Linked DNA regions of Homo sapiens. The protein of the gene in region 2 interacts with the protein of the main gene of each other region in a pairwise test. Each region holds a gene or a part of one and is shown on either strand. Other genes may lie near its edges.

Evidence for each region. Proteins that work in one complex are often made in the same cells at the same time.
Region 1: the proteins of HAAO (region 2) and GAD1 interact in a two-hybrid assay, tested with the Homo sapiens proteins (4 studies listed by BioGRID and IntAct).

What each region holds. Positions count from the first base shown.
Region 1 is NC_000002.12:170,854,873-170,861,664, reverse strand, and holds the end of GAD1 (glutamate decarboxylase 1), read right to left. Parts: intron 4,648-6,792; coding exon 4,540-4,647; intron 2,862-4,539; coding exon 2,772-2,861; intron 1,957-2,771; coding exon 1,783-1,956; 3' UTR 514-1,782; downstream 1-513.
Region 2 is NC_000002.12:42,789,572-42,796,664, forward strand, and holds the start of HAAO (3-hydroxyanthranilate 3,4-dioxygenase), read right to left. Parts: upstream 3,013-7,093; 5' UTR 2,966-3,012; coding exon 2,886-2,965; intron 1-2,885. UniProt on the Homo sapiens protein: Catalyzes the oxidative ring opening of 3-hydroxyanthranilate to 2-amino-3-carboxymuconate semialdehyde, which spontaneously cyclizes to quinolinate.

The DNA of each region.
Region 1 (6,792 bases), about 130 Mb from region 2:
GCTTGAACTGCACATTTAATTAATTATAATCATAATGATTTTATTGATTGATTGAGACAGGGTCTCACTCTGTCACCCAGGCTGGAGTGCAGTGGCACGATTTCAGCTCACTGCAGCCTTGATCTCCTGGGCTCAGGTGATCCTTGCACCTCAGGTTCCCAAATAGTTGGGACCACAGGTGCGCATCACCACAGCTGGCTAATTTTTACATTTCTTGCAGAGACAGGGTTTCGCCCTGTTGCACAGATGGGTCTCGAACTCCTGAGCTCAAGTGATCTGCCTGCCTCAGCCTCCCAAAGTGCTAGGATTACAGGCATGCACCACCATGCCCAGCCCATAATGATTTTATAGATGAGGAGCTTCAGAGCCTGTGACAGTGGATCGAGTCTCCTTCAGCTTAATCAGGGTACTGAGCATCACCTAAAGTCAGCCAATAGAAAGCAAATGGGCTATGGGCAACCCAAGGAACTCTAATTAGAAACATCTCTGTATGAAACACAAACTAGAAGAAAATTTTGTTCAAATTCTCCATGGAGAATATTTTTATTTATTTATATTCTTCTTGCATACTCTAAAACGCACAGTGTGAATTTCCCTTCTTCAAAAACAGTTGTGAGCCTGGTCACTTTATCTGAGATCTTCAGAAGGTCTTCGGAAATGTTGCCTTAGGTTTCAGCTAAGCGAGTCACAGAGATTGGTCATCAACTACTACAAAATTACAGGAGATCTAGTTATTATCCAACAGTTGCTAGAAAAGCATTGAGAACACCAGACGTACAGCCAGACAGAGAGCGTAAGAGAAGAGCAGATGCTATTTAAGTAACAGGATTTCCATATATATGACTTTATGTACAATCTTAGAATTCTCTTACAGACAGTAAAATGCTTAAATCATTATTTTAAGGGCACTCTAATATAAATACAAATCTCACTAATTTTAATCTTTTCTCTTTGGCTCACAAATGCACGAAAATACCATAAACAGTTTTCAGAACTTACTTCATATATAAATAAGATACATTACAAATGGGAAGAAAATACAAGACGCCTCTTTAACATGGTACATCTCTGAATATAAATAAGCAAATATTTCATTGACCTACAATTAAACAATCATTGAAATCATGACACATAGTCTCCCCCTCCCACCACCAAGGTCAGACAACAGGAATTTACACAATCTACACAAATTAATCTCTAAAAATACAGCCATAGTACACCTGTAACAATGACTCTGCTACTATTTTCCCCTAACAGGATACTAATGGGGAGGGTGTGACTTGTCATTTGGTGGTGTTTTTTCTCATCCATCATCACTTCAGGTGGAGAAACGCTGACAGTGAGGTCGATTCTCACCAACAGCATTTCCCTCGGCCCCTAGGACATGGCGTTTTGAAAAACAGTTTTCCTGGAGTTGTTGGACAAGCTGGTTGGCAGCATGTTTAGCTCCTCGGTAACTGCTGAAGGTAAAGTGAATTCTCTTGGAGCGGGAAACATGCCGTGATCTATTACTAAGCCACACTCACTATACATGTATATATAGAGAGAGGTATGTATAACTGTACATATATACTCTGTTCCTAATGTGCAACTTTTTAAAAAGAACACTATTTCCTGCTAACTAGAACAAACAAGCTTTAAGTAAGGTTTTAACAATATTCTTCAAGATATTATGTTTTCCCTCAATGAAATGGCCTGTGTGTTTCAGCAACATATAGAGGTTTGTTCTGGAGTGCCAGAGGGAAAAGGCATTCCCATAAACTCATGTTCTGCGAAGGATGATTACAGATCCTGGCCCAGTCTTTCTATCTCCTCAATGAGGAAGTCAATGTCAGACTGGGTAGCGGCTGGGTTGGAGATGACCATCCGGAAGAAGTTGGCCTTGTCCCCTTGGGGCTGGTAGCCAACCATGGTCGTACCTGACTCCATCATCAGGGCTTTGATTTTTGGAGCCACCTTGTGATGGAAAACACAAAACAAAACTCAAGATTGATATGAACACCCTCTCTTTTTAACAATTCAACCCAACTTGCATTTTACTATTTGTGTTTACATTGACATAAAAGCAAAGAAATATTTCATATCCAGGAATCTTCAGGGGCTAATATCAAATGACTACCTGGTCACAAGTTCCCTCAGAAAGTACTGTGCAACCGAATTTTGAAAGTCAGTCATGGAACAATGATAGTAAAATAAAAAATGAAGACAAAACCAAAAAACTCTTATAGACAACACCACAAATTCAGGGTTTTGTATAACCCAGAGCCCAGGATACTGCCTGGCACACAGACTGTGTTTAACAAATATTTGTTGAATGGTTGGATGAATGAAATGTTATATAAATTAAATATAATCTTAAGAACCCTGGATAAGATATAAACTGGATATAGAAAACAGTTAGAATGAATCAGCATTACAGTGGGCCTGAACTTAAAATGTTATTGTAACAGACACAGTTTAATCTAGAATGTCCCTAGGAATATGCACATTATTCCCTTACCCTGCATAGGGCTCCTTTAATGAAGAACATCAACCAAGGACAAGGAGACAAGATGCATCCTTTAGAAGTTCCCGTGGTAACCACAGTAAGGGGGCGATGCAGGCTCAAGAGGAATATAACAGGATGGCTCCCCACCACCCCATTACTAGAAACCCACCCCAAGGCTTTATTTTTTATATTTCCCCCACTAGAAAGGCACATTGGAATGAGGATGTCCTGACCAGCCAGAGAAATTGCAGAGGATTAGATGAGACAAAAAGCAAGTCCATACCTTGTGTAGCTTTTCCCGTCGTTGAGGGCTGTCTGGCACACCCCTGAGGCTTTGTGGAATATACCAAAAACAGACGTTTGTGTGCTCAGGCTGCAGAGATTTTAAAAGACAAACAAAGAAAATTAGGATAACTTGAGAGAAAGCTGTTCCCAAACCAATATGCATCCTTGGTGGAAGTCTCTTGGACCAAAGAAAGAGGTTGAATGTTCATCTCAAAGGCAATGTTACTTCCACACCAGGGAGAACAATGCCTCATTTATCCAATCATATGTGGCAAGAGAGCTGTTCCCTACAACCAATTTTCTAGGTAACTAAAGTTACCGACTTTAAACATTGAAATGTTACAAATAATTACATTTGGGCAATTTTTTAAAAAAGGTATCCGTCTGTCCATGTTGTCATTTTGTAGTGCCTCACATATAGAAGATAATTGAAACATAGTTTATGGATGCTGATGAATATTTTATTGAGTTTATTATATTGATATTGAATCTTTTCTTGATGACTCAGGACTATCATAACAAACATTAAGACTGGATATATCAATTAATAGGGTTGCTCCTAAAAAAAACCAAAAGACTGTTTCTACAGCATAAGGCAAGGCCTGTTGAGATGCCTCAAACTGTTTAGTGTCCCTCCTCTAAAGATTCCTGTGCTTTTTGAGTTCTTCCCTATTCTTGCTATAAAGTTTTCTCGCTGGTTGCTGTTTGCCATTACTGTGCCTGCCTCTAATTGGTTTGAGATATCACATTTGTTGTTTTTAATCTGCTATTAAGAGTGTTTAAAGTAGTGTGTAAATGATCAGAGCAGTGTCACTGATTTTAAACTGCCCAGGGCTCTTTTTTGTTCATTTGGTGATTCACATGTGTTCCTAGTAGTTTAGGTTGCCTGATAAATAGAATAATGTTGACTGTAAGCAGTGTTATATTATACTGGCTTATAAGTGGATTTTCTTTTATTCAACACTGGCTCCTATTCTATCTTTCTTTATTCAAGTGTAAGCTCCATTGGGTCAGAGAATGTATCTGTTTTGTTCAATACTCTAGAATCTAGGTCCTAGCAGGAGGCCTGGCACACAGTGGGTACTCAGTAAACACTGACAAATACTTTGCTGTGTGCAGTATGCACATGAACTGAGGGCAGAGACAATTTTATCTTGCTCTCTTCCTTATGAGTCTATGTTAAGTAGAACCTTATTTTAGAACAAGTCTTGGGAGGTAAGAATATACCCATCCTATAAGCTTCCTGGAAATGAAAACCACTTTATCGTTTTGTAAAATTTCTTTTCATAAATTATATATATTTTTTCTTATAGAGACAGGGTCTTGCTATGTTGCCCAGGCTGGTCTTGAGCTCCTGGACTCAAGCAATCTTCCTGCCTTGGCCTCCCGAAATGCTGGGATTACAGGTGTGAGCCACCATGCCCAGCCTGAAAAACACTTTTTCATAAAGGTTCAACACAAAACAAACCCAAGAATGATGAAGGATTCAGACCTGTCAAGGAAAGACCTCTTGTCTGCCAAAAGCTGGCCAAGAGCAACACAGTTTTAAAAGATGTAAAGGAAAAAGTCATCCCAGTGCTACCAGAAGAAAAGTTCATAGACATGGAAGGAATTAAAGAGAGGAATTAAGAGTGTATAAGAATAAAAATTTTGAAGCAGTTTCTGGCAACATGGGATTGATTTTCCCATGTTGCCAGAAGCTTCAGGAGCTTCCCTCAGCAGTTTTTCTGGAAATACTGTGTACCTGGTCCATGATGATTACCTACCTCGCCATTGAAAACCATCTCAAATTCTTCTCTGTTTTTAATCTTGGCATAGAGGTATTCAGCCAGTTCCAGGCATTTGTTGATCTGGTTTTCAAATCCCACTGTGCCCTGTTTTAAAGAGAAAAGTCATGTTTGTGGTTGCATTTCCCTGTGATGAGCATTTGGGAAGGCTATGCTGTCCCTGTCTATGGGAAATAAACAAAAAAAGTATTTTTGGAGCTGGTTAGGAAGAACAATCTAATCAAATATGTCAGCTTTTTCACAGATGTGCATGCAATAAATGATGTGTGCCTGCTTCCTCTTTCAAAGGCACTCCAGTCTCTGGGTAGTTATTCTCAACTGGACCTATGCCTGATTCTGGTTTGCTTTAGGATGGTGCTACTCAAAGTGTCATCTATGAACTGAGGCCACTCCACAACTGTAACTGGTCTACAATCAAATGAGTGTAGAAATTGAGATTAAGCATAGGAAACTTTAATGGCAATTGGACAAAGGGATTTTGTCTGTTGACTCTAATAAAAAACAGTGGCTTGTTCTTTGTATGTTTTTAAATTTCATTTTTCTAACAATTAATCTTTAGGGTATTGGTCCATGATAGGTGAAAAACAACAACAACAACAACAAATAACTGGTTCTTCATCAGAAAAACTTCGAAAGATACTGCTGTAGAACTCATCTTCCCCAGCAGTAAGTCCTTGTGAAACATGTCCCATGCCCTCTCAGGCAGGCAACCTTCCACATAACAGTGTTATGCCTTTTAGGTGACAGGCAGGCAGGTAGATGGGGAAGCCATTGGTCTCAGTATATGCCCTGATATTGCAATAGTTCCAACTATTGACAAACTGGTTGAGCATGAGTTTCAAAAGCCAGCATGGCTGATTAATAACAGCAGTATGAGGGTTGTTGAGTGGGTCGGTGTTAACAAGGAGAGCAGATGCACAAGGCTGGCTGTGGATTGCTAATGGGCCTGAGCAAAGTCCAGCACTGAGAAAGCATCAGCCTCCCCAGGTAGTGTCACTGCTGACTGTACACCCTAGTCAGTCCACTTAGGAATGAAGCCTGTACCAGGGTCCCATTTCAGCAACCAATCACTATGGTCAAAACCTGCAGCAGATGGTTCAAGAGGTTATTGTTAGAAACAAAAAAGAAGACACAAATTACTGAAACAGGTTGTGTGGTCATTATATTTCAAAATGACACGACTCCTTTTTTGTTGTTGCCGTTTATGGCTTTTTTTTTTTTTTTTTTTTTTTGAGATGGAGTCTCACTCTGTTGCCCAGGCTGGAGTGCAGTGGCATGATCTCGGCTTACTGCAACCTCCGCCTCCTGGGCTCAAGTGATCCTCCCACCTCAGCCTCCTAAGTAGCTGGGACCACAGGCATGCGTCATCACACCTGACTAACTTGTATTTTTTGTAGAGATGGGGTCTTACTTTGTTGCCCAGATGGGTCTCGAACTCCTGAGCTCAAATGATCCGCCTGCCTTGGCCTCCTAAAGTGCTGGGATTACATGCGTGAGCCACCGTGCCCAGCCTATGGCTATTTATATGTTTAAAATTCCTATGATTACTTTGTAATAGAAATCAAATTCAGACTATTTCTATATTAAGTCAAAATAGAGCTGGGTGCGGTGGCTCACGCCTGTAATCCCAGCACTTTGGGAGGCCAAGGTGGGTGGATCACTTGGGGTCAGGAGTTCAAGTCTAGCCTGGCCAACATGGTGAAGCCCCGCCTCTAGTAAAAATATAAAATTAGATGGGCATGGTGGCGCATGCCTGTAATCTCAGCTACTTGGAAGGCTGAGGCAGGAGAACTGCTTGAATCTGGGAGACGGAGGTTGCAGGGAGCAGAGATCGCGCCTCTGAACTCCAGCCTGGGCAACAGGAATGAAACTGTCTCAAAAAAAAAAAAAAAAAAGACAAAATGACTTACTGAGGAAAAAACTAATAATCTACCAAATTTTTCCTACAGAAGAAATATTTGACTAGAAATTTTGCCAGAAAATCTTGTTGTTTGAGTGTTAGTTAGACAGTTAGACTCAATCTTAAACATAGAAATTATTAAAATTAATTTATAACAAAAACAAGGTATGTAATATAAAACTATGAAATCAAAATTTCTTTTCCTTGATTGCATACAAATATTTTTGAAACAAATAATCAAATGGTAATCCTCTCCCTCACTCATATTTTGGGGGAAATTCCAATAGTTAGCTTTTTTCCTTAGGTACAGAAATGAAACCCAAAAGGTTGAT
Region 2 (7,093 bases):
TAAATAAATAAATAAATAAACTCAATACAACCCTCTCATTTTACAGCCGATTTAGCCAGCCAAGAGAGGGTCACAAAGCCAGGGAATGACTGAACCTGAGCCAGGTCTCAGGCTCCTTGACTCCCACGCTGGCGTTGGGTCTGTGGGGCATCTAGTCAGCTGTTTGGAACAAAAGGGTTCCCAAACTCCTCAGTCTTTCTGCTGTTGGTGTGGTGTTACCTTTTTATGCAAAAAATACCTCAGCACCTCCTGAGAACAGCCTGCCCCATCCCCACAGCAGGGTCCCCTTTCAGGGTGCAGACACTGGGGTGAATAAGCAGCAGAATGTGTCTGTGTAGGGCTTCAGGGTGTTCTCAGGTGGCCCTGCCACAGAGGGCAGGGGCAAGGGCTTTCCTCTGGGAAGGGGAGGCGCTGGGTCTGGGACCATTTGTACACACAGGGCACAGCAGCCTAGAGGCTGCCTGCATGGATGACGATGGTGTGGATGGCAGGGGAGGGGCTATGGGGGAGGTCTGAGCCCCCAAACTAGACTGGCAGGTCCTTTCTGAGTGTCCTGTCCTGTGGGCTGCTTTCCAGCCCAGCTGGGAGGCATGGAGGCAAGACGGAAGAGCCAGTCTCTTTCCTTTTCCTTCCCTTTTGGGAGGCTGGGCCCAATAAACCGGAAACACACGTGTGGACCTGATGTTTGGAAAGGTGGATGAGGTTGCAGGGCAGGAGAAGGCTGTCATGAACAGTCCATGCTTAAAGAACTTAAAGCTGCATAGAGCTTCAAGGAGGGGAGGGAAGCCGCAAGGAACTTGACTGGGGAAGAGTGTGCACAGGAGAGCTGGGTGCAGAGGCTCTGAGATTAGAAGCACTGGGGGTGAGCTTGGGGAACGATTGAGAAGGCTGGTCCAGGAGGGTGGACCAGCCATGGAGTCTGGTCTTGGCCTAAGGGGTGCTGGGGAACCTGGAAAGTTTGTTTTTTTTTTTTTTTTTTCAGATAGAGTCTTGCTTGCCACCCAGGCTGGAATGCAGTGGCACAACTTCGGCTCAGTGCAGCCTCCACCTCCCGGGTTCAAGCAATTCTCCTGCCTCGGCCTCCTGAGTAGCTGGGACTACAGGCGCGTGCCACCACGCCCAGGTAATTTTTGTATTTTTAGCAGAGACGGGGTTTCACCATGTTGGCCAGTCTGGTCTTGAACTCCTGACCCCAAATGATCCACCCACCTCAGCCTCCCAAAGTGCTGGGATTACAGGCATGAGCCACTGCGCCCGGCTTGAAAGTTGTTTTTTAAAATCAACTTCACTGAGATGTAATTTAGGTACATACAGACAATTCTTAAACAACTCCACTCAAGAATTCTTTCAACCCATCAGTCAGAATGCATAAACCAGACCTGCCCCTCCTCTGCCCAGAACTCTTCAGCAGCTTCTCACCTTGCTTGCTTCAGCAGCTTCTCACCTTGCTGAATAGTAACCCCTCCTGTAAAATTTATATGTTGAAGTCCTAACGCCCAGTACTGCAGAATGTGACCTTATTTGGAATAGGGTCCTTGAGATGTAGTTAGGTTAGGATGAGGTCATCCTGGAGTAGGGTGAGCCCCTGATCCAATATGTCTGGTGTTCTTTTAAAAGAGGGAAATTTGGACACAGACACACACACAAGGAGACTGCCTTGTGAAGACGAAGGTGGAGGTGGGCGTGGTACAGCAGAAGCAAGAATACCAATGATGCCAGCAAACCACCAAATGCTAGGGAGAGGCCCGGGCAGATGGACGCGAGACCTCAGGGGGAGCGAAGGGAGGACTGAGAAGGAGCGACTGCAGATGGGGATGAAGTGTTGGAAGGAGGCAAAGATGATGCTACATCTTTAATTGGGGGTGGGCAACAACAGTGATAGAAGAGATCTTTGGGGAGATATTGACTGTTGGCCATGTGGTATTGCATGGTAACCAAGAGTGTGCGTGGACTCTGGAGTCGAACTGCTCCGTGGGTTGAGTCTGGAGCCTATCGCACAGGCGCTCCGTGACACTAGAAAAGTTACTTATGAAAATCCCCCCTCACGGTGCTACTGTGAGAATGAGATGAGATGATGTAAAAACACTTGGCATAGTCCTGGGCCTGCTGTTTGCCTTGAGGTGCCACCCTACTGACCATGTCCTGTGGACACAGCAAAAATGGGGAATGTAAACCTTGATCTAGCTGGCATGTGGGGCCCCGCCATGGAACTGGGGGGATGAGGGAGGTGACCATACCACAGGGGAGGGCCTGAGAGGTCTGCCTGAGAAAGATGGCAGCTGGATGGCCAACCCTGTTGGGTGCTGCAGGCAGAGGCTACTGGCAGAGGTGGCCTAGGGAGGGTCTGGTGTGGTGTGTGTGTGTGTGTGTTCGTGCACACCTGCATAGAGGGGCCCTGAAAAAAGCAAGACATCAAGATCTTCCCAAAGGAGCGGATTCTCTGCCTCCCCCTTTGCCTGTGGCTTCTGGGACAGGGTTGGGGTGTATGATTTGGCTGCCCCCAGGCCTACATTCTAGTGCATTTCTGCCTTGAAAACCACCCTCCCCACACTTTTGAGTTTTCCCAAAATGCACAGTGTCACTTGGGGTTGGAGAATTGTTTCTCAGCCCTGGAAGGAGAGGTGCACCCTGTCATGTCATCTCCTACAGCCTGAGAACCAGCTCAGCCTTCTTCAGAAGTCAAGGCCACAGTCACAAGAAAGAGGAACAGACCGATGTGGTGGAACCGGAACAGCCTGTCTCCATCTTCCCCCAAGAACCAAGAGATTAAAGCGGTCCTTCTGCAAGCTTCTGGGTCCAGGAACTCGGAGCTGGAAGGTGAGGGCGCAGATGGAGGAGGGGGAGGAGGCGAGGGCAGGGGGCGGCCATGGGGGTGCTGGACTCACATGAGCTTGTTGCAGACCGGGGGCTGGAAGGAGCCCCGGTTCTCCTTCACCCAGGCCCTCACTCCCAGGCGGCGCTCCATGACTGTCCCGGGCGCCTCCTCGCAGCGCTGTCCTCCCGCCGTCGGAGGCCCGCAGCTCCGCCCAGCCGCCTTTTTAACCAGAATCCCAAGCTCACGAGGCGGAGCAAACCCCCGCGACCCCGTGGTGGGGGCTTGGGGCCCGCGGACTTTGCCCCCTGGTGGACTTTGGTCTGAGCCCGCCGCCCTCCGCGCCACTCCAGGCCCTGGCGAGCGCGGCGGCGGCAGCGCTGGGGAACGGCGTCCCGCGCCCTCTGCTTCTCCGCGGGGCAGGGGCTCGGTCCCCGCCACCGTCTCCGGGGCGCCCCACACACTGGCGCCTGCGGTGGGGCCTGCTCCCGGCGGAGGACAAAGAATCCAGACCCTTCCTGGACGCTTGTCCCCAGACGTTCCTTCCCTCTACGCCCCGAGGGGAATCCCAGGGAAGGTTCCCAGAAATACTACAGTGAGGAGATCGCGGGTTGGAAGTCCCAGCACCTGAGAACACGGTGCTGGCGCTGGGCTCAAGATTTGGCTTTCCCATCTGGAAAAGGGGAATGACTGCCCCGCCACTCAGGGCTGCGGCGCTCACCCAGCGGGAAGCCGCACGGCGGTCCCCGCAGGTCCCGATTCAAGGTGAGCCCCAGACCTGCTGCGTGCGGCCGGCAGACTCCGCCGCGGGCTCGGCGAGGGGAGCGGTGCAGGCGCCGAGCTGCGGAGCCCGGGCTCAGGGCAGGACCGCGAGCCCTCCCCACCTGAGGCCCAGCCGAGCGGCCGCTGTCCGCGCAGTGTCGCAGTGGACCCCGAGCCCCGTGCTGAACTCCTTAGGCGTCTTAGGAACATACTCAGTTCGCACGCAGCTATGGGAGGAATTTGGCAGATGTGGACACCGGCCTCAGTGTCCTAGCCCTCGGGAATCTCGGGGTGTTAATGATGACAGCCCCGTGTGAGAGACTCTAACAGTTATCCTGGGGGTGAGGGGCTGGGGCGCTGGGCCTGGGCGTGCATGTGTGAGGAAAGAGAAATCTGCGCGGGTGTGGAAGATGGAGAAGCCTGTCTTTCTGCAGGACTCAGAACTTTCTTAGGAAGTTTGGAGGGAGTGGGAGCTGACGGGTAGGGGAGGAGGAAAATGGCTCAGGCCCCTGACACCGGAATCCAGACTATAGAGTTTAAGAAACTAAACGCCTCTAAATCCTGCCCTCACAGCCCGCCTGGCCTGGGCTGGTTTTCTCAGCATTCCAGACATAAAGACTCCTCTAGTACAACTCAAAATCAAAACCCAGACGACAGGAAGCCGAATTCCCCACTGAGACCCTCCCGTTTCCTCTCTGACGCTCTTTTTTTTTTTTTCATTTTTCTCTCTCCTTTTTTTTAGTTATTTATCTAGCACAGTTTTAGCTGAGCACTTCTAGTGCAAAACTAGAATATCGTTTTGCACCCAAGTAACTCACACCACCTTCTTTATTTTTCTCATCTACAAGTAATCAGAGGAGACGTAAACAATGACACATGAAGCACTGAGGATCTGAGATGTGTTAAGTTTGCTTTGAGTGTTAGTTAAATGGAGGGATGGGTGAGTGGGTGGATGAAGGCATCAATGAATTCACACAAAAAGGAGAAAAAATTGATTTCAGCCCAACAGATGTTCCGTTACCATAGTGCAAAGGAAAGAATGATAGGTACTCTGTATTTTAACTGATGTGATCAAATAATGTGAATAATTAAGGCCACAAGTAGAATTTTGGGGGTCTGAAATATCCCGAGTAACCCTCTACACAAGCTAAATGACTGCTATGTTATCACTATCAAATATGCCCTCTGATTTGTGCTGTGTAGAGCAAATACCACGTCTGGTCTACTGAATTGGCAAGCCTCCTGGCTCAGGCACCACTGGACTCCAATGTTCAGAAAACGGACAGTTGCTATGTTGTGAGTATTCTGGCATTGTTGAGTTGGAACCATCTGGAATCCTTCTGGATACTGACTGTTGGGCCCCTTGTAGTTTCTGGAATTTACCCGCTTCTAGGAGCCACCTCTCTCCTCTGCACACAGGAGCTCATCTGCACTAAAGGATTAGAAGCAAATAGAATCTACCCCACGATCCAAGCTCAAAGGATCTGGCCTGCTTGCTGGTGTCTTCCCCTGGCCTCCGCTGGGTGGTGTTTGCCTGCCCAGGTCACTGAGACCAGCAGATCCTTCTAGGCTTTGCTGAACCTGGCTGGTAATAACTATCTGACCCTTCAATTCTTCCATACACTGAACTCGTTGCTCCAGTGAATCCCTTTCCCAGCCCACCTTGTTTTGTCTCTGCCTTTCTGTCTCTCCCACTTTCTCACCCTTTCATGTAATTCAGCAACTATTTTAAAACAAATAGCTTTATATGAACAAAAGGACTAGATCATGAACTACACTGGTTATTTGGAAGTCTAGGTTCTGGTCCTGCTACCCCTTTAACTTGAGTTATTTACAAGTCTGTTTAAAAGTTTCTAGACATACACTGGTTTGTTTTTTGTTTGGCTATCGTTTTGTTTTTCATTTCTAATTGTATTGCATTGTGGTGAGAGAAGATGGTCCGTGTTGTATTATTTTTGGGTGGGGAGATGTGTTAAGATTTCCTTTGCAGTTTAGCTTATGGTCAATTTTTGTGAATGTGTATACTCTGCTTAGAACGTAGTTCAGAATATTTCTATTAGGTCATGCTATTGTGTTAGTCAAATAGTCTTGATCTTTATTTTTTAAAGTGCTTAATATTTTATTTTCCAAGAGAGATATGTTAAAATCTAACACTGTGATTTTTGGGGTCAATTTTTCCTTTTTTTTTTTTTTTTTTTTTTTGAGACCGGTTCTCACTCTGTGCCTAGGCTGGAGTGCAGTGGTGCGATCTTAGCCTCAATCTCTCCGGGCTCATGTGATCCTCCTGCCTGTCCTCACTGTAGCTGGGACTACAGGCTCACACCACCACGCCTGGCTTTTTGTATTTTTTTTGTAGAGATGGGGTTTCCCCATGTTGTCCAGGCTGGTCTTGAACTCCTGGGCTCACAAAGTGCTGTAATCACAAAGTGCTGGGATTACAGCTGCGAGCCAGTGTGCCCAGCCTCTCCTTATTCTTTAACAGCTTTTGCTTTACATATTCTGAATGTATGTCATTAGACGAAAACATGCTCATGACTATTTTATCTTCTTCTTGTAGTGTTTCTTTTATCTCTAAGAAATATTTCCTCTTAGTTTCTTTTCACCTTGACTTCAACTTTGATATTAATATTCCTACACCCACTTTGTGCTAGTGTTTTCCAGATATGGTAAGTTGATCAAAAAGATGACACAATAACTCCTTCCCTTCCTGAATCCATACGCCTTGTGACTTTGCCTCTGTTCTAATAAGAGGTGAAGTCCATTTCCTTATTCGTTGAATCATGTTTGGCATTGTGACTTGTGAATACAGAAGGCAGCAGAACTAATGCTATGGGACATCTGAGTCTAGTCCTCACCAGGTCTCCCAGCTGCTGATCTCATCACCTGGAACGCTGCTCCCACCATGTGTAGAAGCCTGGGTTAGTGTCCTGGAGGATGAGAGACAATGTGGAGGGTGAGGCTGGCCAACAGCCTGCACCAGCTGTGTAAGACCATCTGAGATGACTGTAGCTGCATGAGTGAACCCAGGGGAGACATGCAGAGACTTGCCCAGCTGTCTTACTTGTTACTTTAAGCCATTCAGTTTTTTCTAAGATAAAAAAGGTTAGTTTATCTAGGCAGAAATAGTATGTAAATAATTATACAAGTAGTACATGGATATGACGAAAACCTTGAAGCTGATGTGCAAAGAGCTGAAATTTGGAAAATACTTAATGAGAGAATGGCCTAAAGAGCTATTCGGTACTCTGAATTCCCCAAAGGCAAGGACCAATATTTATCCACCTCCGATATCTCCTCCGGAACCTTACACAGTACTTGGAACACAGTGGACTCTCTACAAATACCAAATTGGGAATTAACTCTTATTATAAACACTGAGTGTCAGCCCTGGTTCTTCCGGGCTCCAAAACTAACATATGAGTAGATTTCTCCAGGTAGACAAGAGTGAGGTAAACCCCCAAGAATCAGGAACTAGAGCCAAGTAAAGAATAAGCCCCGAGAAGCTTTGAGTAAAAAAGG